Linked DNA regions of Homo sapiens. The protein of the gene in region 6 purifies or fractionates together with the protein of the main gene of each other region. This does not show direct contact. Each region holds a gene or a part of one and is shown on either strand. Other genes may lie near its edges. The genes, in order: RASAL2, GAB2, KCTD3, PTPN14, SRGAP2, DENND4C and STARD13.

Region 1 (4,458 bases), on a different chromosome or scaffold from region 6:
TACCTAAAATGTACGTAAATCAGTATTAAGTCATTTAAAAAAGTCTTAATGTATATTCTGAACCTTGAGCAACTGAAAAGTAGAAATATATCCATACAATTCAAAATTTCAGTGACACCTCGCTCCAAACTCATAAGCTTTTTAATGACAGAATGCCCAAGATTATCATAAGTAAATTTAAACACAAAAGTTATAATCCATAGAAGCCAGATAAGAGACTAAATATTGAATATATTGATATATTCCGACATATCAAGAAATAGTAATAGTACTTTGTTTGGTTCTAAATACATTATTCTAGCTGTGAGTTTCTTTGGATCTGAGATGTAATTTTATCATGACCAGTTTGCATACAGTATAACGGTAACTCTTCCTAGTTAATATCCTTCATAGGTCAAAGACTCTCTCAACTAGTTTTTGTTCTTCCCACAACCAGCATATTTCTCCTTTAAATAAAAAATATTCCTGAGTTTTTACTTCTATCCAAGGTGAAATAAGTGTATCATGAAACAGCTACCAATTGTATCATATCCCTTGGATTTTTATTCTAAATATAGATTTTAATCCCACAAAGACTCTTGCTAATACTCAATATGCTTCTGGAATACTTCCTTCTGTGCCTAGAGGATACAGTCATCAGTTAAACTTAAATAAAATACAGTGAGGAAGAAAACCACCATACAACACTCTAGAACTAAATTAAAGATAAGGAACCTTGAACATGCTGTAGGGTTATCGTGCCAATCCTACCATTTATTTTGTCAGACAAGAAAGAGCTGGCTGTGTTATCTATGTTTCATGCAAATTGGCTTTAAATATTTGCTGGTCTCTCCATTTTACTTGTTTAGTTTTATAATCTTCATCTTTTCTGGATCTAATAGGTTTTCTTCTTAATTCTTCTTGTTTTGACCAATAGTAAAGCACATTTCTCTAATTTGGATTTCTACAATATCCATATCTTGGTTTATGAAAGGTAGGGAAGAGACTTCAGGTACTGCAATCCCCCTTTTCCACTTACCTTGGCTCTGCCAGTACTTTGAAGAATGTGCACTAAGGCACAAGCCAACTCCTCTTTATTTCTCACACTAATTACTGGCTCAAGGACAGAACACAGCATGGTGTAGTTGCTGGTGACAAATTCTGCAAATTCTTTGTATTGCTCCATAGGCAGAATGGTGATAGTTTGGAAACGTGATTTAATCCGAATAGAAGGTCCTCCTGTCTTTCCTTTGTTGGGTGTAGGTGTACTCACTGGATACCACTTTTCTACAAATTGGCGACCAGTCACACTGGCAGTGGGGATGTTGACTAGCCCTACATAATTATTCTTGTCCTTTTTTTTCTTTTTTTCCACATCCTTGTAAATGTGAACTGTGATACTATGAAGAGGTGGAAGGCTGAAGAATTCAAAATGTTCGCCCCAGAAAATATTGTCTGCTTTGGTCTTGCTGGTTGTACGAGCAAAGAGGGTATCATCAAGGCACAGTTCGCAGAAATATTTCTTTTTAGGGGCAAGGTCCTTGGCTTCAATGATCCATAAACGAAGAACATTTTCAGCTCGCCTGCAATTGTCCTATAAAGAGGCAACAAAGCTGAATTTCAGAGCTGACATTGCAGAAAAAAAAACATTTTTTTCTTAAGTTGGCAATGTTCATTAGGTACTCTATTAAGGGGAGTCAACAAATAATGAAAGGGATTGCTATCTCATTGCTTAGGTTAACAGCAAGCTCTAAACAAGCATGCATTAGAATCTTGAAGAATTATATATAGTTCATTATATATATTATATATAGTTCATTCTATTTTATTTACTTGGGTTAAGAAAATATCATTTTGTAACGGTAAGTTTTCATATAACCAGTCTAATATCTGCAAATAAAAGAGATAAGCTGTTAAGAAGCTCGTATTCTAGTCCCTCTTCTATCATGTACTAGCTTCTGACATGGCCAATTCACCTAACTTTTCAGAGTCCTTTTATCCATGCTGGTAGAACCATGGCAATAATATCTGCAGTAAGACTGCTTTTAGCTTAAAATGATAATACAGTTTGGATAGTTGTCCCTGCCCAAATTTTATGTTGAATTGTAATCCCCAGTGCTAGAGGTGGGGCCTGGTGGGAGGTGTTTGGATCATGGGGGCAGATTCCTCATGCCTTGGTGCCATCTTCCTGATACTGAGTTCCTGTGAGATCTGGTGGTTTAAAAGTGTGTGGCACCTTCCCCCCAAGTCACTCACACACACACTCTCTCTCTCGCTTGCTCCTGCTTTCACCATGTGATGTGCCTGCTCCCCTTCTGCCTTCTGCCATGACTGTAAGTTTCCTGAGGCCTTACTAGAGGCTGAGCAGATAACAGCACCATGCTTCCTGTAAAGCCTGCAGAACCGTGAGCCAATTAAACTGCTTTTCTTGATAAATTACCCAGTCTCAGATACTTCTTTATGGTGATATAATAAGGGCTTACTACAAATGGCATAACATATAAATGTGCTTTAAAACTCTCAAGCTATAGACAAATTAAGGTATTACTACCACACTTACCTTCTATCAATTAACTGCTTACAAAGTTATACATTTTTTAGATACTTGAAGCTACTATTACCTTATTAGGTTGAACTGTCCTGCGAAGGTTTTCCATCCACTTGTCTCTCTCAGAAGCAGAATTACAGCTGAAGCATTTACTTCCACTTAAGTAGGTAACCTTCAACATAAAAATTAGACATAAGAAAAAGAAAACACTGGATTTCAGGGCTCTGTCATTAGGGTTCACAGCATACCTCTAACTCTTAAATGATAAGGTCGAAATGTCCTGGAATTAGGATGGATGGATGGATAGATAAGAAAAACATGGTCTCAGATCCCAAACTACTCATGCTGTGGTTACAAAAATAACCTAATGAGCGACATCCTTACCAATACTAAAAAATTAATATACTAATTTAGTGTTATTGTTAGTCTCATCCTCTGACGAAAATGTACTAAGAGTCCAATTTTATTGAAAGTAGACAAGGCCAAAAGGAATGCAAAGCTGTGAGTTAGACATATGCTATGAACCTAAATCATACCATAAGAAACTAAGATGATCTTTGCTAGTTTTCCGATACTTATATCTACATCTACATCTGCTTTTTGCTTAGGTAGCATCCACATCCATTTCCAGGTATGAGAACAAAGGCCATTTTAAATTCATCCAAGGAAATTAAAACTGGCCTATGGTTCAGAAAAATCAAAATTAAAGGCCTTTTAGGCAATAACTTAAATTACCTGCAAATAAATATGTTCAACTTTGAGTTAGTAAAAAATAGGTAATAAAGGATGAGAGTTTCTGAAACAGCTTATCAGATTTCTTGAGACTGTCCTCACTATATTATAGAAGGGTGCTAAATGAAATTGAAGAGTTACTAATATTGAATTACTATCTTTGGAACCCATTTTTCCTCCACTACGCAACCAGCCTGTTGATTTCTAGTCATTTATTAGGTTAGCCTGACCACTATTAACACAGTCCTTTAAAAATGAAATATGTTGTTATATACTTAGCACCTAACTCTGGGCTTGATATACAGCCTAATGAACTGAGTTCCGCAAATACAAGAAAGTTCAACTGATTTTTATAAAAAAGAACACCAATAAATGTCTTGCCCAAATTGCTGAAGTCTGCTCACTTATTAACTCAATCTCTGGTCACAACCTAATAAATCCGATCAGATTATATGCTCTGTCCAATACAGCAGCTACTAGCCTCACATGGCTATTCCAGATTGAGATGTGCTGCAAGTGTAAACACACATCAGATTTTGAAGACTTAGTTTTAAAAAAAAAGGAAACAATTTCTCTGATAGTGAACATGTTGAAATGATAATATTTTGGATATGCATGCAGATTGTACTATATTTCTTTTGGACAGTGCTGGTCCATAAGAAGAGGAACCAAACAAACATCTTTTGACTTCTACAACATCTAGTATAGGACTCATCTGTAGTCACTTAGTAAGCTCTTGTTAATTAATCAAATCTCAGCCCTAATAATTCTATGTATGTATAAATACATGTATATATAGTTTTTGAATTTTACTTGTAACTGGCTAGTAGTACATATTTGGAAGGGAGAAATTACCTTATGATAGTTGGCAATTTTGTTTATTCAAAAATCAGGCACCTGCAATGTGCTGGGGTCTGGGTTAGTTACAGGGGATTTCAAAAATAAATAAGACATTTAGGTCAAAATGTCCTGGAATTAGGATGGATGGATGGATGGATGGATGGATGGATGGATGGATGGATAAATAAGAAAAACATGGTCTCAGATCTTGAACCACTGATGCTGTGGTTAGAAAAATAACATGATGAGTGACATCCTTACCAATACTAAAAATTAACATAGTAATGTAATGTTATTGTTAGTCTTGTCCCCTGATGAAAATGTACTAAGAATCAAATTTTACTGAAAGGAGGCAAAGC
Region 2 (4,458 bases), on a different chromosome or scaffold from region 6:
TTCCAGCGAAGCCCGAAGGACTCACCATAGGGACATAGTTCTCTTCGCTGTCTCCTGAGTCTGTGCTGGTGATGCTCTGGGTGGAGATGGGGCGGCAGTACTGGGAGGAGCTGGAGTTGAAGGTGTGGCTGTTGTGGGAAGGAAGAGTTAACACTGGGGAAGCTGCATGGCTGCTGCCATGTTTCTAGCCTCCAGCTGGGCCCTGACCCTCACACACCCAGACCTCAGCCATTAGAGCTGCACACTCCATCAGATTAAGATCTGATATAGGGCAGGTATAATTATTCTCTTTTACAGCTGAGGAAACCAAGCCACAAGACATCGAGACATGATCAGCTAATGATAGCGTTAGCATCAGAATCCAGCTGTCCCGGCCCACAGGCCAGCTACCACATCACTCATTTTCCCTAATGGCCCGACTCCAAGCTCCCACCCCCACACATACGCACTTACTTGGCCCTAGACCAAGACTTGGTGATAGGTGACTTGAAGGGGAGTTCATCGATGACGGTGTTGTTCCTCAGGTCAAGTGGTGTTGGCTTTGCTGGAGCAGGAAAAGAAAGTCTGGTAATCAGCCAGTAATGATAATGCTACACATACACACCTTATATATAACACATGAGCATGTTTATAAAGGCCTGCAAAGTCATTCCAGTTTCACACAGGGAAACTGACGCTCAGCGAGGTTGTATAATCTTTGCCCATATTGATGAGCCTTGAAGTCATGTCTTCAGATTCCAAATTATATATTCTTTCTGCTGTATCTATGGTAATTATATTTTCAGAATCAAAAGTGGGGACACAGGGTTTGACAACAGATTTTTCTCCCTCAATTTATGACTTCATTTAAAAATAAAAGACTATATATAAAATATATTTATATATTAATATATTAATATTTATAAAAATATATACTATTTATATATTAACACACATATATGTATTTTTTAAGACGGGGTCTCACTCTGTTGCTCAGGCTGGAGTGCAGCGGCGCAATCTCAGCTCACTGCAACCTCTGCCTCCTGAGTTCAAGTGATTCTCCTGCCTCAGCCTCCCTAGTAGCTGGGACTATAGGCGCCTGCCACCACGCTTAGCTAATTTTTATATTTTTAGTAGAGACGGGGTTTCACTATTTTGGCCAGGCTGGTCTCGAACTTCTGACCTCAGGTGATCCACTCGCCTCAGCCTCCCAAAGTGTTGGGGTTACAGGCGTACAGGCGTGAGCCATGGCGCCCAGCCAAGAGACCATATTTGAAGTATAGATGGTCACCGTGACTACTCCCTGCTGCTCCTGGCCAGGTCGGTGCAAGCCACAGTGGAGGAAGGTAGATGCCATAAGGGCTTGAGGGCTTCAGTTCCAAATGCTAAGATTTGAATTCCCTGTTGGCCAGACCCACAGGGGGCTATCTCTGCCTAGCTATCCTACTCCTCCCTTTGAATCCTTGCCACTGATCCAATGCCAGGAGAGTGAGATTGTAGCAGACGAGGACCTTGCCTGGTCTACATGCAGGGGGCACAAAGCTGACTTTACTGAACGCCTGCTATGTACCAAAGTACTATCCTAGATGCTCTCCTTTGCAGCAAACCTGGGAGGTAGGAATTACCATCTGCATTTCACAGATAAGAAAACTGAGACTCAGATTTTACATGATTTGCCCCAAGTCACACCTCTCAAGTCCAGGATCCACATGACCCCTAAGCAAATGGAAAGAGTCCCTAGCCACTGTCCAGAGATGGGACAGGGGAAAGAATGGACTTACCTTTCCGATCAGGTTTGAGGTTGCGGTTGACAGGGGGTGGCTGAATCTCACTTCCTCTGCTGGGGCCTCGGTGCACAGGAAGGGTTGTTGATGGGTAGCCAAGTGAGTCAAAGTGATGGGCCCCTGGGCTCATTGGGATGTAGACGCTCTGGGAATTATCACCTGCTCGTTCCATGGCCAACAGGGTGGAAGAACCTGGATTCATGGGCACATAGTTGTCTTCAGAATTGGTGCTGTCCGATCGGCCCACAATCATTTTCCCTGGCTAGGGAGAGGAACAGTGAAAGAAATACAGCTGTTACTAGCAAGAAGAAACAGGAAGGGGGTAAGACTTTGTAAATGAGGCAAGACAAGTCATGACTGGGTTAGCTATACTTTGAAGCTGTAAGGGAGACCTTGGGGAGACCAAATAAGAAAGCAGAGTAGTGGGAGGCTGAGGCAGGTGGATCACTTGAGGTGAGGGGTTCGAGACCAGCTTGGCCAACATGGCAAAACCTCCTCTCTACTAAAAATCCAAAGTATTAGCTGGGCGTGGTGGCATATGCTTGTAGTCCCAGCTACTCAGGAGGCTGAGGCACGAGAATCGCTTGAAGCTGGGAGGCCAAGGTTGTAGTGAGCCAAGATCATGCCACTGCACTCCAGCCTGGGTGACAGAGTGAGACTCTGTTTCAAAAAATAAAAAATAAAAAAAAGGAAGCAGAGTGGGAGACAAGAATATATGAGGTCTGTGGGCCCCTTCAAGCCTTCACGATCCTTTGGCATCCACTAATAATTTTTGATAAATCTAGAGTATAAAATATTCTTGGTGACTGGGTCCACTTGGCTTTCTGGACGCCTGACCAACACTGTGGGTGGCATAGTCCATAGACTGTAGGTTTGGTTCAGGACCTGCCCTCCACCTCAAGTCCAGACTCACCACTGGCAGGTCAGCATCTCAGGCCCTGGATCAGAACAAGGAGCATATTAGGAGTCCTGGCTCTGGAAGGTGAGGTCTGGGGCCAGTTGTGTTTCCCCAGTCCAGGTTTCTAAGTACCTGGGGCTCACTCCAGGCACCTAGGGGACCACCAAGCTGCAGTCAGAGCTTCTACAGAGTTGTGTGATACAGCAATCCCAGCCTTCCTCTAACTCTTGCTCTATCTGCCGTGACATACAACTAAGCTGCTTCTGCCTTGGTTACCTGATTTCACTGTCTTTTCAGTGGGCCTGAAGCCAGGCCCTGGTCTTCTTGCCTGACACCTTGGAGAACTGCGGTTAGCATCTTCCAGAGGGCAGCCTGGGATCCTGCACTCAAGCCATAATTCTGCCACTTAGCCTGACTGTGAGTACCACCCTTGCCTGGAGTCTCACACTGCAGCCTCCCTCCTGCATGTGAGGCCACGTGGGTAAGGTTGCTGTCTTAGAGGTTCCCCCACCGTGCAGCCTGGGTCTATTGCATTCTAGATCCTCTGCTTACCTACAAGGTTGGTGAACCTTGTAATCCAGTCTACCTTAGCACATACATTTCTTCCAGACTAGAATACTTATATCTTACTTGTCCAAAGACTCAACGCAGGGTTCTGAACTGAGACAAGAACTTGGGCAGGGTCCTAAGATGGAGACGCCATCAATCTTTTGGGGTTGTGCTTTTAATTCCATAAGGTGTGACCTTTTACCTAACCAGGCCGGCCTGAGGACCCTTGGGTTAACCCACACTCACCAGGAAAGAGCCAACTCCATCACTCATGGATTCAGCAGACCGGCCTGCACTCTCTCCACCACGCTGTGGGTACTCGTAGGTCTCACAGGAAGAAGCTGACAGAGGAAGGAGGATTCATAAGTACTCATGGTTGATTCATGTGTTGACACTTACCCATACCCTCACCAGTGTGGTTCAAGGTCTTACTGATACTCCAGAAGATACTACTCTCAACCCCAAATGATAAGGAATTTCTTCGAACACATCACTCCTCAGTTCAAAAATTCCTCCTGGGCTTCTAGATGTAGCTCCAGTGTTAGCATCTGCAGAGAAGCTGTCCTTGACTACTCTACCCTCATCTATGCACCTCTCCTTTGACTCCTACACCACTCACCTGTCCTGCTCACCCCAGCCATCACTTCTCTGAACACCACAGTAACAATACTTGTCCTGATTTATATGTGTTGGTTTTATTTTCCCAATGAGATGTAAGCTCTGAAGGGCAGGAACATGTTTTATGTATGTCTTTATCATCTCAGTTCCAAAACGGAGTATGACTGCTCAAATTGTCGATGGATTGAAAGACGGCAAAGAGGTCTAAACTAGGAGCTGGGACTCTAGGGTCTGAGTCTCATCTCTGGCACAATGACTCTGCAACTCTATTTAAGTCTCTTAACTGTCATTGGCCTCATGTGAGATGGAGACAAGGAGGTTTTGTCCCACCAACCTCTCTGCCTGGCTTAAACAACAGGATGGACAAGAAAAGGCTTTGCAAACCATAAAGCAAGATGCAAAATGAAAGGAATTAATATTGTTCTATTTTTTCATCATACAGAGGAGGTTACATGCAGAGTTGGAATACTCTCAGTGGAAAACAAGTAACAATAGAATTTAGGTACTTCAAATAAAAGTTTTGACTTCAACCAAAGAGATTCAAGTATGATTTAGAAAATATTAAGACCTCGTTTTGCTTTAGCAGTCTGTTAGTCCACACAGGTTTCACTCCAGTTTGGACTGATCTTC
Region 3 (3,962 bases), on a different chromosome or scaffold from region 6:
GTAGGTATAATGAAAAAATTAAGGCATAATGGGGGCAATCTGAGAAATTAGTGTCAGAGTAGACAGACATAAACCACTGCATCAAGGTTCAATCTCCTGTAAGCAAAAGAAAGAAACGATTTGACTTGTACTGTAATGCAATCTAGTATAGTCAGTTTCCTTTTTATGCGATTCTATTACATAATAGTTACTATCTTCTTTTTAATGGCCTTTTATTCCTGGTCACTAGAGTCTAGTTTTTTCTTTCATTTTCTTACTTGCCCACCCAACTTTCACATAACTGTCATAAAGAGGAAGAAGGGTGTAAGATAATTACAATCTTAGTAATTTTGAAATTATGCTTTGCCTAATATTTTCTTTCATTGATAATAACTTATTTTCCACATATATTAAGTTCTCCCTCCCCCCATTTTTTTTAAATTATGGGAAGAAGCAAAGAAATGAACAAACATATATAGCACACTTTAAACAGAACTGTTACTTAAATAACTGAAAACGCATTGACATAATCATTTTTATTTGATTTAATTGATAAATAAATACAAGAGAACTGTTGTGAAACCACTGGCAATATAGTAAATTTTAAAGATTTTATTTCAACTTCACTCACTTATATTTCTTGGAATGGGGATATATACATTATTCACCAATAAATGCTAATGCTTTAAATTTACAATTACCCTATTTGTAGAAACCTGAAGATCATTCCAATTAAATGAAAAAAAATTGTACAAAAACGTTCTTTTGCTCTTACAATTCAAAATACATTCAAATTCACATTCTTACAGCAGCCAAAACCTTTAACCCAAAATTCAGAACTGCAGTCCTACAAGTGAACAAACTAGTGTTTTAATTTAATTATCATGATTGTTGTTAACACTGAAAAAAAAACATGGTGGCTCCTGAAACAAGACAGGTTAGCAACTGGTACAGCTTTCCCTTCTGGGCACTCAAAGCTTTGCCCTTGATTATTATTTTTATTTCATCTTTTCAAACACAGACAATTGCTCCAACTTGAAAGTTTCAATGGAATTTTGGCATTTAATATTGCTAATGCTTGCTAAGATTTAAGATCTCCCAATGATGAGAATCAGAAAATGACGCACGACTAAATTAAAATCATCCTAAAAGACTTACTACATAGTGGTATCTGGTATTCAATATCAATAGTGTTTTTGAATTACATGATATGTTTTTCACAAACATAGCACCTCATCAAATATCTGGTAAACACTTTGCAATCACAATAAGTGTTGGGAGACCAAGTTCCAAAGACAATTATGTGATTCACTTAAAGGTAACATTGTAAGACAAGTCTCAGGCATAATGAAGATTAGGAATGCAGTCTGCTGGTTCCCATGATCTAAAGGGATGCTCACCTATATGGGCACCATCCTATTAAGACGTGGTAATATGTTTCCAAACCAAAAAAAGTCGGTAAGTGTTAAAATGGACTCCTGCTTTATAAATGATCTGTTAAATGTACTTGTAAAATTAAAAAAATTTCCAAAATGTCAAAAGAGATATGATTATTGTATCTCATTATTCCAAGTAATTCTGTTAAAAAGATACTAAATGAAGTCCAATTTTATCTTGTAAAGTTTTAGTGTAAAAACTAATGTACTGAAATTCAGTAAAGTTTAACTTTCATCTAAATGTAACGAAACAACTATTCATTTTGGTGAGTTTTCACAAGCTGTACTCCTGACCTGAAGAATCACTTTTTTTATGCCGAGGAGATGGAGTAGTCTTTGTAGGAGATGGGGACGCAGTACCAGGTGAGTCAGTTCCTCCATCGGAAGTACTTGGTGATGACGCCAGATAGGGAACTTTCTTTCTTCCAAGGAATCCTCCCCCTTCAAATCCTCCTTTCTTCCTAAACTCTATTTTATTTTCATTTTCATCTTCTGATGACCTTTTCTTGGATTCTGAAAAACCTTCAGCTATTTTATGCACTTCCAATCCACTATCCAATTCTCTCAAACTTTTTATTTCTACTCCAGGAGACTTTCTCTCAGATATATTACATTCCCCTGTTGCCCCTTTCACTTCAGCTTGTATTGGACCCAAGTTACCATTTTCAGGGACAGCTCTTTCTACATTTCTGTTCAAATTAATAGTCTGGAAGTCCCTATAACTGTGAAAGCTCTCAGTCCTTCTTGCCCTTGCTAATAAAGGACTTTCTCTGTAAGGCCTCATGGAACCGTAAGTAGCTGCTTCATGGGTGGTATCATGGTGCTGAAGCTGAAGGCTGAAATACAGTTTTTAAAAATGACAGTTCAGATTTCACTCTGTGATTTCTCAGGAACATATTAATTATACAACCAATAAAACACACTATATAAATACATAAAGTGTATTATATCCATATTTCTCTTTGTAAAAATATACTTATCAAGTACTCTTTATTATATAGATGGTATATAAAATTACCAATGCAAATAATACCATCATATATTCACAGACATGCTGAATTTTTGAACAGCTAAAAAAAAGATGGGAGGAAAAATCCTTGAAACCAATGTGAAACCATCATAATTCAGTATTTAGCCCTTGGTTCTTCAGACTTTGGAATTTATCAATATGATAACTAAAAAGACATTATGGAACTTTGTATTAAAATTACATAATGCTTAAATGTAAGACTAGACAACATAATAGAACCACAGATAAATATTGTCCCTGAGACAGGACAATAATTAAAGCTTCACATACTAACCAAGGTGACATGTAATTTTCCTAATTTCCTTTGAATAAATTCTTGATCACATAATAGGCTTCCAATTGGGCAGCAATTCACAAAATAAGTTAAAAGGTAAAAATGTTTTTCTATGAAAAGAACCAGATATGCCTATCAAGAAATTTGGTAAAACTGTTAAAAAGTTAACATAATGTCTGAATTTAAAATGTACCTTGAGAAGTATGGCTTTCTAGAACAACTATGTGATTACAATATTTCAGTCAATTTCCCCAAAAGAAATAAATTTTGTTTATAATACCCAACTCTTTAACCTACCTAGAATTTGATTCTCGTAAGTGGCTATGCTGAACTACGGAAGTTGCTGGACTGATGTTAGGAGTAGCACAGCGAGATGTGCTCAAATCACATTGATCGAGTAATTTGAGTAGCTCTTCTTCGGTTGGACCACCTACATCTTAGGAGAACAAATAGTCATTAAAATCACTTAAGTGAAAAGCTTAACCTTGTGACAAACATCTTTCTGTATGAGAACCTACCCTTATCTTCACTTTTGTTAACCATATCCATAGCAGTGGTCAGATCCCACATTTGAATACTGCCATTTGTATGGCCTGTGAACAAGTAGCGCCTTGGTCTTGAGCCCATCCTACTGGATCCCTCACATTCCCTCACTGTAAATGAGGATATTGTAGTACAGTCAACAGCCTGGATCTCACATATTCTGCAAAAGAAAAGCAGAAAGAGCCCTGATGGGAATGAGCAATTATTTAAAAAGAAGCTATGAAACTAAAAAGACAGAAAGAAAGAAAGCAAACATGTTATACTAGAAAAGACTTTTAAAAAATCATTTAAAATTTATGTGTAAATCTTTAAAATCTGAAACCAGAAAAAATATACAGCTCTATGGAGATGGCCCATATTGTATCCATCATTAGGATAATACTCAACTTCAAAAAAAGATTTTTATGACTTTTTAGTTGATTTTCATAAAAGATAAAAGAACCTGAGAGAGAACAATTTTTATCCACATTGACGGATCAGGAAACAATGGGATAACATCAGCAAATGATTGTTCCAAAGTCACGTAAGGGCTAACTGAATTGTACTTGACTGAATTAGTTATCCCAGCCTACTTCAAAAGAGTTGAGGGAGTTTATTAAAAAAGAAAAATCAGTATAGGCAAACGCAAGGTCAAAAAAATAGACAAAAAAAAATACAATCCACATGAATTTGAGAAGCATACAGGAATAGAATATGAAGC
Region 4 (4,458 bases), on a different chromosome or scaffold from region 6:
TGGCCAGTCAGTATATTGTAAATGCCACACCGTCCTTTCTTGCCCAGACAAAAGGTGCTTGACCTTCAAGCCCGTGGTTGCATAGCAAACAGAATCCGTTCGAAACTTCGTGGTGACCTTGAACTTGCCATAGGTGGCTGAGCTGTGCTTTGAACCTAGTTTGGGCCAGTATCGGTGGCTTTTGGTTCGTCCACCCTCCTAAATCACATATAAAAGCAAAATTGGAAATAGGTCAAGGGAAGCTCTCATCCTTTTAATCCTAAGATATGAAGACAGAAGAAAATGCAAATAGCTTCTAAATCGCTAGTTCAGTAGCACTCTGCAGTGTCTACCACAGGGTAGATCCTATACATGCTAGTTAAGACCAATAACACAATTTACAATGACAGTTACATCAATGGAAAATTTAAAAGATTCACAACCGAGGTGCAGTAGAATGTTAGAGAGAAGTGCAAGTGCAGTCTAGAAGCAGGAACAAGCTTCGTGCATTCAAGAAACAAAGGTCAGCCGGGCGTGGCGGCTCACGCCTGTAATCGCAGCACTTTGGGAGGCCAAGGCGCGTGGATCACAAGGTCAGGAGATCGAGACCATCCTGGCTAACATGGTGAAACCCCATCTCTACTAAAAATACAAACAATTAGCCAGGCGCGGTGGCGGGTGCCTGTAGTCCCAGCTGCTGGGGAGGCTGAGGCAGGAGAATGGCATAAACCCGGGAGGCGGAGCTTGCAGTGAGCCAAGATCACGCCACTGCACCCCAGCCTGGGCAACAGAGGGGAGATTCCATCTCAAAAAAAAAAAAAAAAGAAAAAAGAAACGAAGGTCTTCGGGGTGGCTGGAGTGTGACATGTGAGGGGCCAGGCGATCAGAGAGGAGACTGGAAAGGCCTCACAGTCCATGGTGGAAAGTTTGGATTTCATCCCATGGGCACGGGAAGTCATTCAAAGGTTTTAAACAAGGCGGGAAGGGGTTCCAGCAATCGCTGTAGGTCACGTTACTCCTTTCGGATGTTCAGCGCACAGCTCTTTCTGTTACAGCACACTGACTACCGATGCTGTCTTTATCTAGTGTCGATTTCACATTTGTTTCAGCCTGACCAATGCGTTTTAGTTCAATCTACAACTAGAACTGAGAACAGCTGCTTACATCACCATTCTTTCTCCCTTGATTTTATAAACTTTTCTGAGAATATGTATTCTCAACCATTTACACAAGGTCTATGTTTCAGCTTTGCACCGTTTTAAAATCTCTGGAGAAGGGGCGGAGTGTGGAGGAGGTGGTAGCTGAGGAGATTCAGGGCAAGGAGTAGGTGGTGAGAGAGAAGGAGCACTGAACACATACAGCTGCAGTGGTGACAGGCTCTGGGAACCCTGATGGCTGTTTACAGGAACATTAGAGTTCCTCTTGTAAAGCCCACTTGTAAAGCAACACATCTTTGCGGAATATGTAAATTACCTTGCCTGGCTTCATTTGGTTTAATTGAGTCTCCTTAAATTGGAAGCATACCTTCCTCTTTTATTTACCAATCCTGTGAAAGCAGATTTACCTCGAATTTACATTTCTGCTGAGTGTCTAAATCAGTTATGGATTTTAAAAGACTATAAGTCCCCAGCTGTCCCACAGATTACTAGATGCTACTTTGTCTTGGCAAGGCTGGCTCCTTGTCACTCCGGTCTCACCTCCAATGCCACTCCCTCAGAGGGTCCTTGGCCACCCCCCTGATCTAAAGTAGACCCCAGTCACTCTCTTTCTTAACCCTTTTTCCATTTTTAAAAATTTTCTCCCTTGAATTTATGCTACTATTAATAAGGTTTTTACTTCCAGCCTTCCAGCAAGTGTGCAACATGATACAGAGCCTGGAGCTCAGGGTTGCACATCGTGAAGCCACCCTTTAGTAGGAGTCCCCTAGCGTGAATGACAGTTTTGCAGCTGAAACCCACACAAAGAGGAGGAGGGATGAGGCAGGAGGACCTGTACTCACCCAGACCCACTCTGGACTATAGTTTTCCATTTCTGCCACGGCACTTACTGCTATCTGCACTGATTTTATCTGTTCACTTTTGAATGTCCCTCCCACTAGGACATAAGCTCTATGGGGACAGGGATGGTGCCTGTCTCGTTTACCGTGTACTCCTGAAGTTAGCACAGATGGTATGCTGTATTTAGGTGAATGAATGCCTTGCAATGGTGTGAGCTGATAAGGTGATAAATCTATTCTAGAAGCTTTAAGGAGGATTCATTCTCTTTGTGGGAAGGTCAAACAGGTCAGCCCAGGGAAGTACAACTGGCTTTAAAGAGCCTGATGTCCCTTTCATTATTTTCTTCTAATGGACTGTGCTGAGAAGCAAATGCTCAACACAGTCAATGAAGGAAAATATGACTTTTTCCTCCCCAATTTTCTTTGTTCCTGACCCCTTTAACATAGCTAGGAAAGGCCACTGCAATACCATGGATATTGGTAAACACACATGAAACTAGTCCCTTGAATGATTTCAAAACATAAATTGGAATTTAATGAAAGAAATAAAAGAAGGTGGTTAAAGAAATTTTGAGAATGTGACAAGAGAAGAAATACAACACTTCTCCCCACAAAGACAGCAAGCTCAACACCGACTGGATTGACTGGCAGTGTAGGCTGGTTTTTTATAACATCACATAGAGTTCTCTAGTTACAGCAGAAAAACTATGTTTGGCTTGGCAAAAGAAGAAAAAGATATTTTTTCTTCCCCCAAAGAACAGAGGACTCTCCAGGAACAACGGCTTCTGGTCTCTTTTCAGCTGATAAGGATGATGGCATGTGGAGCTGGGTGCCTGGAGTTGGGCGTCTATGTCGATTTGCCCAGAGCAGCCTGAGACTCCCAAATTCCAGTGGAAAGATCACTGTTTTCGTTTGGCACAGAAAGTCAGCAGGTTGAACTAAAGTCTGTCATTTTTGGTTTTCTGTTGTTTTATTTTCAGTTTAGTGCATTACAATCCAAGGAAAAGAGTTAAAAGCCAGATGAAAATGGGAGGAGGAAAAGCTACAACAATCAATTATCTCCAGGGGAAAAAATATCTATCTGGAAGTAAGAAAACAGATGTATACCAAAGAGAAAAGCATGTGCAGAGAAACAGCACTGCAGGAAGAAGGATAGGGTAGCAAAGTTGACAGCACAAAGCCCATCTTCTGGCCACCCTTTCCCCTGGGGAAAAAGGATGTGGAGTAGGCCATTCCCCTTACCTCCTCTGCAGTGACCATGGCAATCACATTCACTCCCTGCTCCCACACCATCTGCCAGAAGTCGTGGCACGTGTGTGGCAGGGGCCCCTGGGTGGCTATGTAGTGCCATTCTGCCCCGCCAACCACCACCTAAAAACCAAGAAAAGTATCGGTAAATAAACCCCAAGTCCGGACAACATTACCTGCTGATCACCTGTCCATCTGTATCCACCTTAAAACCTTGGATATATTTTTGGGGCCGAATGAATTAGTTCAATGAACAAAAACCCTGAGACTACAGAGGCTAGTGTAGTGACACATTCTCACATGAAAATACTTTTTGCCACTCAAGCCTATTAAATATTTATCTAATCCTGGTTTTTGAGACTGAGTCTTGCTCTGCTGCTTAGGCGGGAGTACAGTGGCACGATCTTGGCTCACTGCAACCTCCGCCTCCTGGGTTCAAGCAATTCTCCCGTCTCAGAATCCCAAGGAGCTGGGATTACAGGCACTCGCCATCATGCCCGGCTAATTTTTGTATTTTTGTAGAGATGGCGTTTCACCACATTGGCCAGGCTGGTCTTGAACTCCTGACTTCAGGTGATACGCCCATCTCAGCCTCCCAAAGTGCTGGGATTACAGGCCTGAGCCACCAGGCTTGGCCTTTACCTGATCTTTGTTTGCAACTCACAGTATATGCAAACTAGTGCCTATTAAAAACCATACACATACACACATGTATAGATGCATATATATGAACATGTATAACTTAGGATTTACTTGTTACAGAAATAATAGTTACTGCTTACTATGTGCAATGTACTCTAACACTTTCCATTCTTTTCTCTTTTCTAGTCGATTTCATTGAAACACACACACACACACACACACACACACACACACACACACACACACACACCTGGTCATGACCACTAAACTGATTTCACATTCTACCACTGTGTTGTAATCCAGTTTGAAAAGCAGTGCTTCATGGCATCCAATTAAACAATAAAAAAAAAAAAAAAGATCATGAAACAACATCCCTTTTGGAGCACTATCTTTCTCCTGTGGATCTGAGATGAAGTGTATCATAAACCTCTGCTGTCACTGCTGCTCTGTGGTGCCATGCACGGCAGAGATGCTACGAATGCTCTTGTCAACAGCATATATTTTATCAATAGCTTCACCTTGGTAGTACCACAGCATCCAACTGAACTACAGTCATGACATGACTTTGGATAATAAAATTATTACCCCTGCAG
Region 5 (4,156 bases), on a different chromosome or scaffold from region 6:
GAGTGGCACAGCAGCCTTGGCCTTGACTTACCCAAGGCCAAGGGCCCAGCAAGAGAAGCTCAAGATGTAGCTGTTCCATGAAAACAGGGGAAGGGAAGAGACAGTAGGCTGGAAGGGCATAGCAGAGCTGAATAGAAGATATATGAATAACGGATAGGGATGATAAACCTAAGAAGGGGTTGTAAAGTGTTCTGTCTAGAGCTGGGGGTAGGATTCCTTGCATTACCACTGAACATAGGGTACCCACTTGGAGAGATGTGATCCATCCCCAGGGGCATCTTTTATTAGAACAAGCCTGTTAAAAATAAGTGTTGGCCCTAGGGGCTCTAGGATTTGTTTGAAGTTGTTACCTTGAAATAACTTCACCCTTGAACTTAAGCTCTGCTAGACTCACAATCTGTAGGAGAGAAAACATCACCTGTATCCCCCACTCCCACCAACAGCACAAGCATATTGGTCAGCTTTTCTCCCAGAGGCAGAGGGCTGTCAAGGGCAGAATGACTCAGGGCTTTGGTTGTGGAAGAAAGAGAATCTCTAGTCACCCTTGGTTGTAGCTTGCCAAGTTTCTAAGCAACTTCTTAGGCCCCACTCCCTGAAGTGAGGAAATCTGACTAGAGATAGAAATGAGAACAGTCCTTATTGAAAACAAGGAAGGTGGATTCTGTGAAGGAAACGGTTCTCATGGCAACAGGCAGTCCAATGGTGAGCGGGAAGACTCTCTACAAAACCTATGAGAATCCACACACAGGCTAAATGGAAATGCTGGGGGAAAAACCTCCCATTCTAAATGCAAGTGTGCTGTGCCTTGGTGGGGAGGGAGAAGGTGGCTGGCTGTAAGGTCATCTCGTTGCTCTCTCTGTTGCCAGGCAGGGCTCTGTTAGCACAGACGAATCAAAATCCCTCCTGGGCAGCTGGAGTCCTGAATCAGAGATTTCAGAGAGGAGAGAAGGGATATGAACTGCAGCATCGAAACCTAAAAATGTATTTTATTTTGAAGTTGTGCTTTGGATTTTCCCCAATCCAACATCTGTTGAGTGACAGTCTTAGGTTCACACAAAGCATCTCCAAGCATACATACAATATTCCAGTTATCAACACTATTTTAAAGAATATACCATTTTACACAAATGTGACATACAAGTCAGACGCCACAACATTGCGATTCCCTGGAAGATGTGACTTCTCTTCTGCATGGGAAGTAGATCTGCACCAGCCCTTCCAGTGCTCTGCGCATCCCGGTGCTGGCATCACCGCTCCTCATCTCCTTGGGGAGAAGCCAGGGCGCCCTGAGGAGGTTGGCTGAGACCAGTGTTTCCAGTTTACAGGCTGCTGGCTACAAACTCCTCTATTTTCTAAATTGGGATGCTAGTAGCCCCACCCCACCTCTCTTCCCCGAAGACTGACCCTTCAGAGTCCACACCAGGAAAAGGATCCATGCCATGAGGGGTGGAGCAGGGCTCTTTGAAGCATCATGCTGGTTTCGGCAAGCATAGCTGAGGAAGGCTGGTCTCCCTAGGCCCTGGATGGCCAGCTCCTTTTGGCTTTTCGGTGTAAAAATCACAGTGTGCAACCTCAATTCCAGTTGTTTGCAGTGAGCTCTGCCGAGAAGGACTCTCCTCCTATCGGTTCCTAGTCCTCTCGACAGGACCATCTCACAGGTGTTAGGAGCACCAGAGATGGGGAAGACAGCTCTGCCCCCAGAGCTGGGTTTAGTAGGTGACCACTCACACACTGTTCAGTTCATGATGCAAATTAGCGCGGATGGACACTGATCAAGGGGATGGTGAACACGAGTCATGTACAGGGTTGAAAGAGAAATAAGGCAGGAGCAACAGAACAGGCCCAAAGTGTTGCCATTAAGAAAGCTTTGCTTTTACTTTCTTAGAGGGGAGTGTGCTGGAGAGAGGGAGAAAGGGCAAGTGTGGGTACCAGTTTTGATCAGTTGGATTGAAAGGAATGTAAAGTGAAAGATAGGGTTTCATTTTCAGCAAGGAAACAGATCCTTGGGTATGAAAGCCCCGTTGGCTTGGGACCTGTGTAGGCCCAGGTGACAGGCAAGAACAGGTCAGGAAACAGCAACAAAAATCAAGACTGTGGGTTGCCTCTTCTAGGCTGACTCACTTCACTGAAAGAGTTCTTCAGTTCTCCTGCCTAGCACTTGGAAAGGTTTCTCTGGTGCTGCAGGTTAGCCTTCTCATTAGTGATTTCCCACAAAGCACCTCTTTTCCTTTGCACAGGATTAAAAAAAAAAAAATCCTACCACTTTCCATAGACCTAACTACCAATTTCGCAGGTTGGTCCAAAAAGAATCTCTTCTAGGTCAAAGATAAGAAAACTCAGATTTTCCTACCAGAATGGCAACCCACCATCTCTCCGGAACTACAGAAAATAATAAGGCTAAAATATAAGTGCAGCTTTTAAACCAGAAAACACAGAGAAGAAGGATGAGTTTCAGCTTTAACTCAAGTTGCTGTCTGAGACCCATGAGCCTGGCTGTGGATGTGTCTGGTCCTGATACTCCTGGGATAGCATGATGCTAGGGGGGCCAGGAGCACAGGCACCAGGTTTGGAGACTGAATTGGAGCAGACAAGGGTATGATTTGTGCATTTTGGAAGGGAACCAGAAAAAAGGCCAGAGTAGAGCCAGAATATTCAGCATTCAAATTTTAATTTTCTTTCGATTCTGGCCTTGGGAAGACTTGAGAGCCTGTGGGGTCAGGGTTCCCTTAATTGTCCTTGTTTGCATAAATGAAAACTGGTTTTAAGAGGTAGGGTCTCCCTTTAATCTAACTAAGGCTCTCTAAGCCCCTGTTGGTCCCTGAAGAGAGACCTTGTAAAATAAGGAAACTAAGGGGTGGACTTAAAACAAGTTTTCATTTGGGAACAATTTCTGGATTAGCAAAGCTGAATTTAATTTTTTAATAGGATAATGAATTTTATGTTTTAAGTGCCAAAAACATTAGGAGGAAAAAGGACCCATTTCTTACCTTTCCCAAACCTGCCATAGACACAATAAAACTCTCTTAAGACTCTTTACCCTAAAAGGAACCAGCTATAAAACTGTCTTATACAGGAAAATGTCTTAAATGGAAAATGGTCCATCAGAGACAAAGGTAGGAACCCGAGAAATGTCTATACATTCAGAAAAACTTTAAAAGCTCCTTAATAAGACGGGGGTGTACTTCTAGGGGATGGAGGAGAGGCAAGAGCAAACACCAATGACCAATTCACATCAATGGAAAGAACACAGAGAGAAAGCCCCCAACCCCAAACAGGTTACGGGATTGTCCCATCCCGTTATGTTTCATATGATGGAGAGATTTCAAAGGCTAGGTTCTCTGGCCCAGACAGAACAAAGTTTGTGATGGAAACAGAGACCCCTGGTGGCTACTGTGTGAACTGCCACAATAACTTACAAAGAGACTGGTCTATGACCAGGAGAGGCTACACATGCCAGAGACTAGAAAAACATATGTGTGTGTGTGTGTGTGTGTGTGTGTGTAAAATGTGTGTGTGTGTAAAATATGTGTGTGTATGTAAAATGAAGACTGGACTATATATGATTCTCTATAATCAGTTCCCAAAACAAGATGCCACTGAAAGCTGGATGGCAGTAGCCAACCATCTGGTCAAGGCATCACCGTGGTCTGAGGGGACTGAGACTTGAGCCCATGTCCTCAGGACTGCCTTACCAGATTTCACAGTGACCTGATAATGAAAACCTGTCTCTGGCTAACCTAAGAACGGTACGGACTGCAGCTGGCTGAATTACGACGACTGGGGGAAGCAGAGGGCAGTGGGAAGGGAGAGGCGATACCAAGGGCTTCATTCTCAAGGTTTTGGGAGACGGGGAGGCTAATTCCTGCAAGAACAACTTAGAACCTAATTTTCAACTGAAGTCCCCAAGCTAGTTAAATAGGAAGATTTTAATAACAGTCAGTCCCTATAGTCCCCTTGTCTAGAACAATTAAATTATTATCCCTCAGACAGTACAAGACTTGTCAGTAGACTGTGGGGAAGTTGATGAGTTGACACCAGGGCTAGTGGCATTTGTTTTGGGGAAGACAGTGGGCTTGGGCCGTGTGGCTGGTGGTTTGACCGGGGCAGCCATCTTGACAGACTTGACAGGCCGGAAGGCGCAGGCGATGTCCCCAGC
Region 6 (4,458 bases):
GGTATGCACCACCATGCCCATCTAATTTTTGTACTGTTAGTAGAGATGGGGTTTCACCATGTTGGCCAGGTTGGTCTCGAACTCCTGACCTCAGGTGATCCACCCGTCTCAGCCTCCCTAAGTGCTGTGAGGCGTGAGCCACTGTGCCCAGCCTGAATAGGTCTTAAAAATAATTTGCTAAGATGCTCAAAGCAGAACAAAGGAGAAAATACTGCTTAATAACTTCATGGAAAGAATTCAGTAAAATCTCTACAATTCACAGATAGATTAGTATACTAATTACTGACACTGATTTTTTTTTTTTGTTAGGTGTGCTATCGAGTAGTGATGCAGCTTTGTGGACTTTGGGGTCATCCTGTTTTAGCAGTGAGAGTCTTATTTGAAATGAAAACTGCTAGGATAAAGCCTAATGCTATTACTTATGGTTATTATAATAAGGTAAGTAGGATCGACATTAGGCAAGATGTGGTGTTTATTAAGAATGATTATTTTGTATACCTTTAGTTATTCATGAAACTCCTATTAAAGGAAGTTTTGGGATATAATTTTTTAATAATTTTTATAATTATTAAAAATTGACAAAAAGTATATATATTTATCATGTACAATATGATGTTTTGAGATATGTATATTGTGGAATGGCTCAATCGAGCTATTAAATAATTAACATATGCCTTCATTGTTTTGTGGTGAGAACACTTCTAATCTCTTAGAAATTTTCAAAATACAATACATTGTTATTAACTGTAGTCCCCATGTTGTTCAATAGATTTCTTGAATTTATTTCTCCTACTGAACTGAAGTTTTGTATCCTTTGACCAACATCTTCCAGTGTCCCCTTTCCCCTTACCTCCCAAAGCCCCTGGTAACCATACTTCTAGTCTCTGCTTTTATGGGTTTCACTTTCCTGGATCTCATATATATGTGAGATCTTGCGGTATTTGTCTTTCTGTGCCTGGCTTATTTCACTTACCATAATGTCCTCTGGGTTCATTCATATTGTCACAAATTACTGGGTTTCCTTTTTTATTTCAGGCTGAATAGTATCTCGTTGTGTATATATACCACATTTTCTTCATCCATTCATACATTGATAAACACTTAGGTTGATTTCATATGTTGGTTATTGTGAATAATGCTGCAATAAACATGGGAGTACAGATCTCTCTTCAATATACTGATTTCATTTCTTTTGCATATCTATACCCAGTAATAGGATTGCTGGATGATATGGTAGCTCTAGTTTTAATTTTTTGAGGAAACTCTATACTGTTTGTGAGGAATCTTTTTAATGGCTGTACTAATTTGCATTTCCACCAAGACTGTGTAGGGGTTCTTTTGTCCACATCCTTAATCAACATCTTTTGTTTTTTTTGACAATATTCTAACAAGTATGAGGTGATAAGATATCTCATTGTAGTCTTAATTTGCATTTCTCTGATGTTTAGTAATGTTTAGCATTTTTTAATATACCTCTTGGCCAGTATAACTTTTTATATTTGTGTATATATATATATAAACATACACACACACATATATGTATGTATTTTTAAAATCAGATATTGCTAATGAACATTATTTTTACCCTTATTTTACCTTTAGGTAGTCTTGGAGAGCCCGTGGCCTAGCAGTACCCGCAGTGGTATTTTCTTATGGACGAAGGTACGGAATGTGGTACGTGGCTTGGCACAGTTTAGGCAGCCGCTTAAAAAGACTGTGCAAAGGTCACAGGTCTCCTCAATATCAGGTAATACATGTGATTAGAAATATAATTCCTTACTGAACCATGAGCTTTATAGGCATATGAATTTTTAGCTATGTGAAGTAGAAAACTTAAATTCCGGTAGACATTTTCACATACATTTAAAGACAGATTGTCTTAGTCCAAAATTATTTTTGTTTTTTTCCAGAAATTTAGAAAGTGTTCTGCAACTATAAATGAACTGTGGGTCAATCATGTTTAGTTTAAGAGATTATCAATGCATGAGTTATTGAACTGCTATTGTCCTTATCTTTAGCTCTTCAAAATGTCACAGGTGGAAGTGATGGGGACACGGTGAGCCACGGTAGTGTGGATAGTTCTAATGATGCTAACAATGGGGAGCACACAGTCTTCGTCAGAGATTTAATCAGGCTTGAGTCCATTGATAATCACTCTAGCACAGGTACTAAAATCCAGATTTTACTAACCCTTCACTTACTCTCATGTTAAATCTTTCCTTTTTCAAAAAGCTTCTTCCATTCTTGAGTTTGTGTGATATGACTACTTTAAAAGTACTGTATGCTTACAAGAGAAACAATACGAGTCTGCAGATGACTTCTGTTTATTTCCTATAGTACAAAATTAGTATGGGAGTGCTGTGCACAGTGCTCTAGCATGATGCTTCTTTGTATTTGTTTATCATTAGTTTGTGAAAGTGTATGCTATAATTAGGAATCATGAGCTAAGGAACTTGAAAATTAGTGACACAACTTGCAAATCTTTTTAAAAAATTAAATAGAAAATGTATCTTAAAACTTCAAGAGTATGAATATTAAAGAGGGAAGGAAGGAAGTCACACAATGAGAAAAAGTATTCTCTTTAAGTTACATTTTTTAAGATCTGAGAAGTTATTGAAGCTGCTTTTATGTACATAGCCATGGGAATAATCCCTCTCCTCTGAAGTTAGAAATAAGTGTAACTAAAGTAGCACGTTGTGCAGATATATGTGTGTTACATATCCTTCTTCTTGTGTTGTTTTTTTGTTGTGGTTGTTTTTAATATCTCAAGCCTTCCTTTAAAAAGAATTCTGGGTCTAATTCCTGTGCTTCATCTGATGAACTTGTCTCAATGACTGAAGTTTCCTTTTCTCTGCTCTTTGTTGCTTTGCTTTTTGCTCTGTGCTGTTTCTTGGTGCTGCATTTGTCCTTGGCTGTCATGGTGTGGGGTGCAGACAGACTTATATGACGTGAAGCTATGGATACACGTGTGCATTAATTCTACCCTTGAATGTTAACCACATCAGGTAATTTCCCATTTATTAGGTTAAATTTTGCTGACCTGCAAGGGTGGGGGAAAGACCTTTCATTGTATTTTAAGTTTGTTTTGAGTGGTAAACAGTTTTCATTTTCTTGCCTTTTCTCCTTCAGATAAATGTAATCATATATAGACTCTTGAAAATATCCAGCTAACTTTTTATGGTCAGTTTGCAAAGCATGTTTGTTATCTTATTTGAAAATATATTATGCCTTGCTAAAATTCTTATTTTGAGGTTGGTTTGTAGCATCAGTGTGACAAATAGTGTTATAGGCATTGAAGAATTAATTGTTTCAGCTGTTAAGGTGGTGTGGCCATTGCTTTCCAAAACTTATCTGCTGAATTCTTGTGCTAAAAACAACCTTCACATAATTACAGGAGCATGTGTAAATTTGAAAGTCAACATAAAGCTACAGGTTACAATCCTGTTTGTAATTAACTTCCTCAGTTTGCCATCATGTTTGTATATTATATTAACAAATAAGAATTTTTATGAAACTTTTATTTTAAAGCCACCATATTTTATTTCCTCTAGTATTTTTTTCATGATACTTGTAGAAGAAATGGGCTTCATGTATAAAAAGCAAAAAAATATATTTTTTTGTATGAAAACGTTTACCAGGAATAGTAATAGTAATACATAAACACCTTTCCCCTTATTCCTTCAGATTTTTAAGTTTACCTCATTATAGAGGCAATTTACTCCTTTAATGGAAATACCAATCTCCTAGTAATGCTGGGTAATTGGTATAAAGACTTCAATAGTTGGGCACAAACCTTCAGGTCCCCCTTATATATATTTTAGCTGCATTTCAAATGACCGAATGCCACATACTGAATTTGCAGTGATGGTGTGTCTCTGTAGAACTTCTGGCGATGCCATTTGATGCTTTTGGAGTCTTCAGCCCAGGTGCTTAAGTTGCTCATTTCATTAAGGATTATCTCGTGGAATCTTTCCACTTGGTACCTGGTACAGAGTCACTTAGCTGTTAGGGGCATGTTTGGTTTTAATTCACCCAGGTCCCAGCCTAGTGTTCATTTCATGGCACCACATTGCTTTACCAGACTTTTTGAGGGAGCTAGTAAAAAAGTGACTGAAGTTAGTCATTCTAAGTAGTAGTATTTAAAGACATTTAATTCTTTTGTTGTATGGCAAACCCAGAGTCTGAGTGGCAGTGTAATAAGTGATGGAAAATGGAGGTACTGCATATGTTATTTTATGTGTCTTTTATTGACATCTTTATACTGTTTTCTCTAGTACCTGATCTTAGTTTTGATTTTAAAGTATAGAAGTATAAAGTCAAAAAAGACTTTTAAAATATTTGAAATAACTTCAAACTTACAGAAAAGTTGCAAGAATAATACAGAAAACTCTCATATCTTTTATCTAGATTCCCTTGTTTTTAGTTTGCCACATTTCCTTTATTATTTTCATTCTGCAT
Region 7 (3,517 bases), on a different chromosome or scaffold from region 6:
GTAACGATCTAGGATTTGAACGGAATGGCCATCATCTCCCTTTGTATGGTGTCTGGAGTTGAATTCAGTGCAATAAGAAAACACCAATTAACTGTGACCAAATAGGCCACTGGTCAAATAGAATGACATTTAATAACATTATGAAATGTATTTATAAAAACTTGAGACAACACAGGGGCTCCCTTTGGCTGTGAAGAAGTAAAGGCTATGATATTCATCTTGACTTGGGGTCTGTAGTGATGGGCATGGGAGCGAGAGGTATCGCTTCTGTTTCAGTCACTCTCGCTGACTCCGGTGGTCCATATCTCACTGAAATTCCATCTTACTGGGCCCAGTGGCAACTCCTCATCTAGCTTTAAATTTGGTAATGACTTCTCACCCCCCCATTTGCTTTAAGGAGGAGTAATTATTATTTCCTTGCTTTATCCCAGATCTCCACTCTCAGTTTTTGAATAGCAGAAACAAAGCGTTAACACATAAGTCTCCTTTAATGTTATTTTCCTTTGGTTAACTCATCTTTGGTTAGGCATCAGGGCATGTTCACACCTTGGTGTTAGCAGCAGGTTCTGCACAGCTTACAGGACAGTGGAGAGATGGGGCCCAGAGCCACTTGGAAAGAACTGTGTGAGGAAGGGACTCACTGAGTCAGACACCGTCATTTTCAAAACACACAATTCTATATAAAATTGGTATTTTACATATATACAGTAAAGATGGAGATATACACACATATGTACATATGCTATACATACATTTATTTACAGTTAGGTATACGCTTCTTAGAAGCCTTTAAATAGCAAATTAGGCAATGCACAAGGAATAGTCCATTTAATTTTAAGTAATATATATAAAGTTCTCATTTTAAAATTATATTAGTAGGGATGTAGCCATCTCCAGGAAGGCTAAGAAAGTTCTTGGAAATTCTTGCATCTCCAACATTCCAACTTCTTAACGTTTCCATTTTTAGGCATTAACCGCGTCCTTCAGTTCCTCTTTCTCTCGCTTTCTCACATGCACACTCTCTGCCACACTCGTCACTTTAGCTTCCTCTTCCCTGAGTTTGATGTCACACTGGGCAAAACTCAGATTTTAGTTTCTGGGCCCTCAGCAATGAGGGGCTGGAAAGAGTTTCTAATCCTGGCAACTTCTGCTGCACACAGATGTCCAAAGCCTTTGCTGTACCATTCTGGGGAGTGACCTCTGTGGGGAAAGAAATCAGAAAGGAAGTGGGAAAGTTTGTTTCCAAATCACAGCAATTAGTTTTGGTGGACAGGGCTGCCCTTGGGCCCCGATGACCAGTGAACCTGCAGACAGCTCGGGCTGCTGCCTTGAGGGGCTCAGGACGTCATTCTGCCATCAGGGGCCTTGAAAACGTCCTGGCTGCTAAGTATTCATGTTGTCATTTGAGTACTCATCAGGTGCTTTAAAATGATACCAACATCTTGGGGTAAAATGAAAAGATTCAGATGAAATCCAGAATTTACTGTGAAAACTCCGTTTTGTCTACCCAGACCAAGAACTGGGTTTAGCATCATGAATGCCTTGAAGGGGTTGGATGTAAGTTACTTACTTCTCAAAGAACTACCAGAGGGAGCAGCAAAAGGGGACAGGCATAAAAGAAATACATGGTCGAGCACGGTGGCTCATGTCTGTAGTCCCAGCACTTTGGGAGGCTGAGGTGGGCGGATCACCTGAGGTTGGGAGATTGAGACCAGCCTGGCCAACATGGCGAGGCCCTGTCTCTACAAAAACATACAAAAATTAGCTGAGTGTGGTGGTGGGCAGCTGTAGTCCCAGCTACTGGGGAGGCTGAGGAGGGAGGATCACCTGAGCCCAGGAGGTGGAGGTTGCAGTGAGCCCTGATGGTGCCACTGCACTCCAGCCTGGGTGACAGAGTGAGACCTTGTCTCAAAAAGAAACACAAGAGAGGGAAACTCTGATTTACTGAGTACCTACTATGTGTCAGGCTCTGTTTCTGGTGTGTGTTTCATGGGAGAAAGACAGAAATATAAGTAGGCATAAAACAGAAAATAAAGAAAGACAAACAGTTGCAGGAGAAATGTCAGAATTTCAGGAAAGGGGGAAAGACAGAGGGGAGGCATACATATCCACCTATGAAAGCACACTAATGGCAATGAGGAAACAAATACAGTGAAATAAGAAATCAGGGTGACATCCCTGCTGGATGTGCTGTACAAGCTGAGACTCCCAAGATCTGAGCCTGCCATTAAGGGAGTCAGCACTTACTTCAGGTCTATCCTGCAGATGTGAGTCAGTCTTGACTTGCCAGAGCCACACGGTTCTATCAAGTACTGCGAGTCCATCACCACTGCTCGCACACCACCCAGGAGCTGGGCTTCCTCATGCTCCACGGAGAGGGACACCAGGGTACACATTCCTTTGGGCAAATCAGTTTTCCAGGTCCTGTAGCAAAACAATCCGCACATCAGAGTCATGACTGAGGGAGGAAGAAGAACCTGAACACAGAGCTAAGGTTTGTGTTTATATTTTCCTGCCAACAACCTGGGCTCAGATTCCAATGCTAGTGACTTGGATTAAGCTAATGGCTTTCATAAGCTTGTGTAAAGTTTATACAGAGAATTTCAAAGCAAGGATCTCAGCTCTGGGACTGTGAGGCCAGAAATGGTCTTGCAGCTTTCAGATCTGCATCTGGAATCCCCAGCTCTGCTTAGCTGCAGAGGCTCCTGCCCATTCTCGAAGAGGTGGTTTTACAGTTTATTATTAGAACTCACTCATTCGATTCATTCAGCAGACATCAATTAAGCAGATAGACATGCCAGTCTCTGAGAAGCCACCAAGGACATAAAGATATACACAGCCCAGGAGGAAAAATACTGACACTCTAAACAGAATTCTAAAAGCACTGAGGTAAATGCACTGGTAAGATTATGCACAGAGGGCTCTGGGATCACATAGAGGGGGCTGCGGGAGGAATATGGAGAAGGCTTCCTGGAGGAGGGCATGCTCAAAGAGAAGTGAACTGGTACGCTTAGCTTGAAGGAAAAGAAACATATGTGGGCCTGCTTATTGTCTTCACATACTTGAGTGGCTCTTGAGTGGGAGAAGAAATGAATATGGTTGATTTGACTCCAGAAGGCAGAGATAGGAAAGTACATTTCTGTGCAGGAGAGAAGCACTGTCTAACAATGTGCACTGTTCAGAAATGAAATGTGCTGCCCTGGGAGGCAGTGAGCTCCCTGTTCCTAGAGCTATTCAAGCAGAGGTGGCTACCCCTTGAAAAAAGGTTGTGGATGGGAGTCAGGAGCTATGAGAACATCTCTGTAACAACCTCTAACTTCCCTTTCTACCCCAGGGATCTATCATAATAGATTGCATTATTAGAATTCCCATGATTTACTCCACAAATTCTATTCCCTTACTAAGTCATGTCCTCCATGATTTCACCCTGTCCTCCTACACCAGGAAGAGAAATGGTGATATGTGCTTGACAAGAACTTGGGAATAACCAAGCCCCACACAAATGCTCAGCGACTTC

What was found.
Region 1: the proteins of DENND4C (region 6) and RASAL2 purify together in Homo sapiens (affinity purification with mass spectrometry, with the first as the bait; one large-scale study listed by BioGRID). This does not show direct contact.
Region 2: the proteins of DENND4C (region 6) and GAB2 purify together in Homo sapiens (affinity purification with mass spectrometry, with the first as the bait; one large-scale study listed by BioGRID). This does not show direct contact.
Region 3: the proteins of DENND4C (region 6) and KCTD3 purify together in Homo sapiens (affinity purification with mass spectrometry, with the first as the bait; one large-scale study listed by BioGRID). This does not show direct contact.
Region 4: the proteins of DENND4C (region 6) and PTPN14 purify together in Homo sapiens (affinity purification with mass spectrometry, with the first as the bait; one large-scale study listed by BioGRID). This does not show direct contact.
Region 5: the proteins of DENND4C (region 6) and SRGAP2 purify together in Homo sapiens (affinity purification with mass spectrometry, with the first as the bait; one large-scale study listed by BioGRID). This does not show direct contact.
Region 7: the proteins of DENND4C (region 6) and STARD13 purify together in Homo sapiens (affinity purification with mass spectrometry, with the first as the bait; one large-scale study listed by BioGRID). This does not show direct contact.

The regions. Positions count from the first base shown.
Region 1 is NC_000001.11:178,439,790-178,444,247, reverse strand, and holds part of RASAL2 (ras GTPase-activating protein nGAP), read right to left. Parts: intron 2,700-4,458; coding exon 2,601-2,699; intron 1,574-2,600; coding exon 1,019-1,573; intron 1-1,018. UniProt on the Homo sapiens protein: Inhibitory regulator of the Ras-cyclic AMP pathway.
Region 2 is NC_000011.10:78,221,652-78,226,109, forward strand, and holds part of GAB2 (GRB2-associated-binding protein 2), read right to left. Parts: exon of another isoform or gene 3,552-4,458; coding exon 3,457-3,551; exon of another isoform or gene 3,421-3,456; intron 3,079-3,420; exon of another isoform or gene 2,959-3,078; intron 2,026-2,958; coding exon 1,761-2,025; intron 877-1,760; exon of another isoform or gene 545-876; coding exon 454-544; exon of another isoform or gene 129-453; coding exon 26-128; exon of another isoform or gene 1-25. UniProt on the Homo sapiens protein: Adapter protein which acts downstream of several membrane receptors including cytokine, antigen, hormone, cell matrix and growth factor receptors to regulate multiple signaling pathways.
Region 3 is NC_000001.11:215,618,346-215,622,307, reverse strand, and holds the end of KCTD3 (BTB/POZ domain-containing protein KCTD3), read right to left. Parts: intron 3,423-3,962; coding exon 3,238-3,422; intron 3,156-3,237; coding exon 3,017-3,155; intron 2,252-3,016; coding exon 1,690-2,251; 3' UTR 501-1,689; downstream 1-500. UniProt on the Homo sapiens protein: Accessory subunit of potassium/sodium hyperpolarization-activated cyclic nucleotide-gated channel 3 (HCN3) up-regulating its cell-surface expression and current density without affecting its voltage dependence and kinetics.
Region 4 is NC_000001.11:214,369,494-214,373,951, forward strand, and holds part of PTPN14 (tyrosine-protein phosphatase non-receptor type 14), read right to left. Parts: intron 3,347-4,458; coding exon 3,218-3,346; intron 199-3,217; coding exon 1-198. UniProt on the Homo sapiens protein: Protein tyrosine phosphatase which may play a role in the regulation of lymphangiogenesis, cell-cell adhesion, cell-matrix adhesion, cell migration, cell growth and also regulates TGF-beta gene expression, thereby modulating epithelial-mesenchymal transition.
Region 5 is NC_000001.11:206,461,247-206,465,402, reverse strand, and holds the end of SRGAP2 (SLIT-ROBO Rho GTPase-activating protein 2), read right to left. Parts: coding exon 3,983-4,156; 3' UTR 967-3,982; downstream 1-966. UniProt on the Homo sapiens protein: Postsynaptic RAC1 GTPase activating protein (GAP) that plays a key role in neuronal morphogenesis and migration mainly during development of the cerebral cortex. Regulates excitatory and inhibitory synapse maturation and density in cortical pyramidal neurons.
Region 6 is NC_000009.12:19,334,668-19,339,125, forward strand, and holds part of DENND4C (DENN domain-containing protein 4C), read left to right. Parts: exon of another isoform or gene 1-1; intron 2-309; coding exon 310-438; intron 439-1,602; coding exon 1,603-1,747; intron 1,748-2,018; coding exon 2,019-2,165; intron 2,166-2,933; exon of another isoform or gene 2,934-3,005; intron 3,006-4,458. UniProt on the Homo sapiens protein: Guanine nucleotide exchange factor (GEF) activating RAB10. Promotes the exchange of GDP to GTP, converting inactive GDP-bound RAB10 into its active GTP-bound form.
Region 7 is NC_000013.11:33,104,511-33,108,027, forward strand, and holds part of STARD13 (stAR-related lipid transfer protein 13), read right to left. Parts: intron 2,425-3,517; coding exon 2,248-2,424; intron 1,201-2,247; coding exon 1,083-1,200; 3' UTR 1-1,082. UniProt on the Homo sapiens protein: GTPase-activating protein for RhoA, and perhaps for Cdc42. May be involved in regulation of cytoskeletal reorganization, cell proliferation and cell motility. Acts a tumor suppressor in hepatocellular carcinoma cells.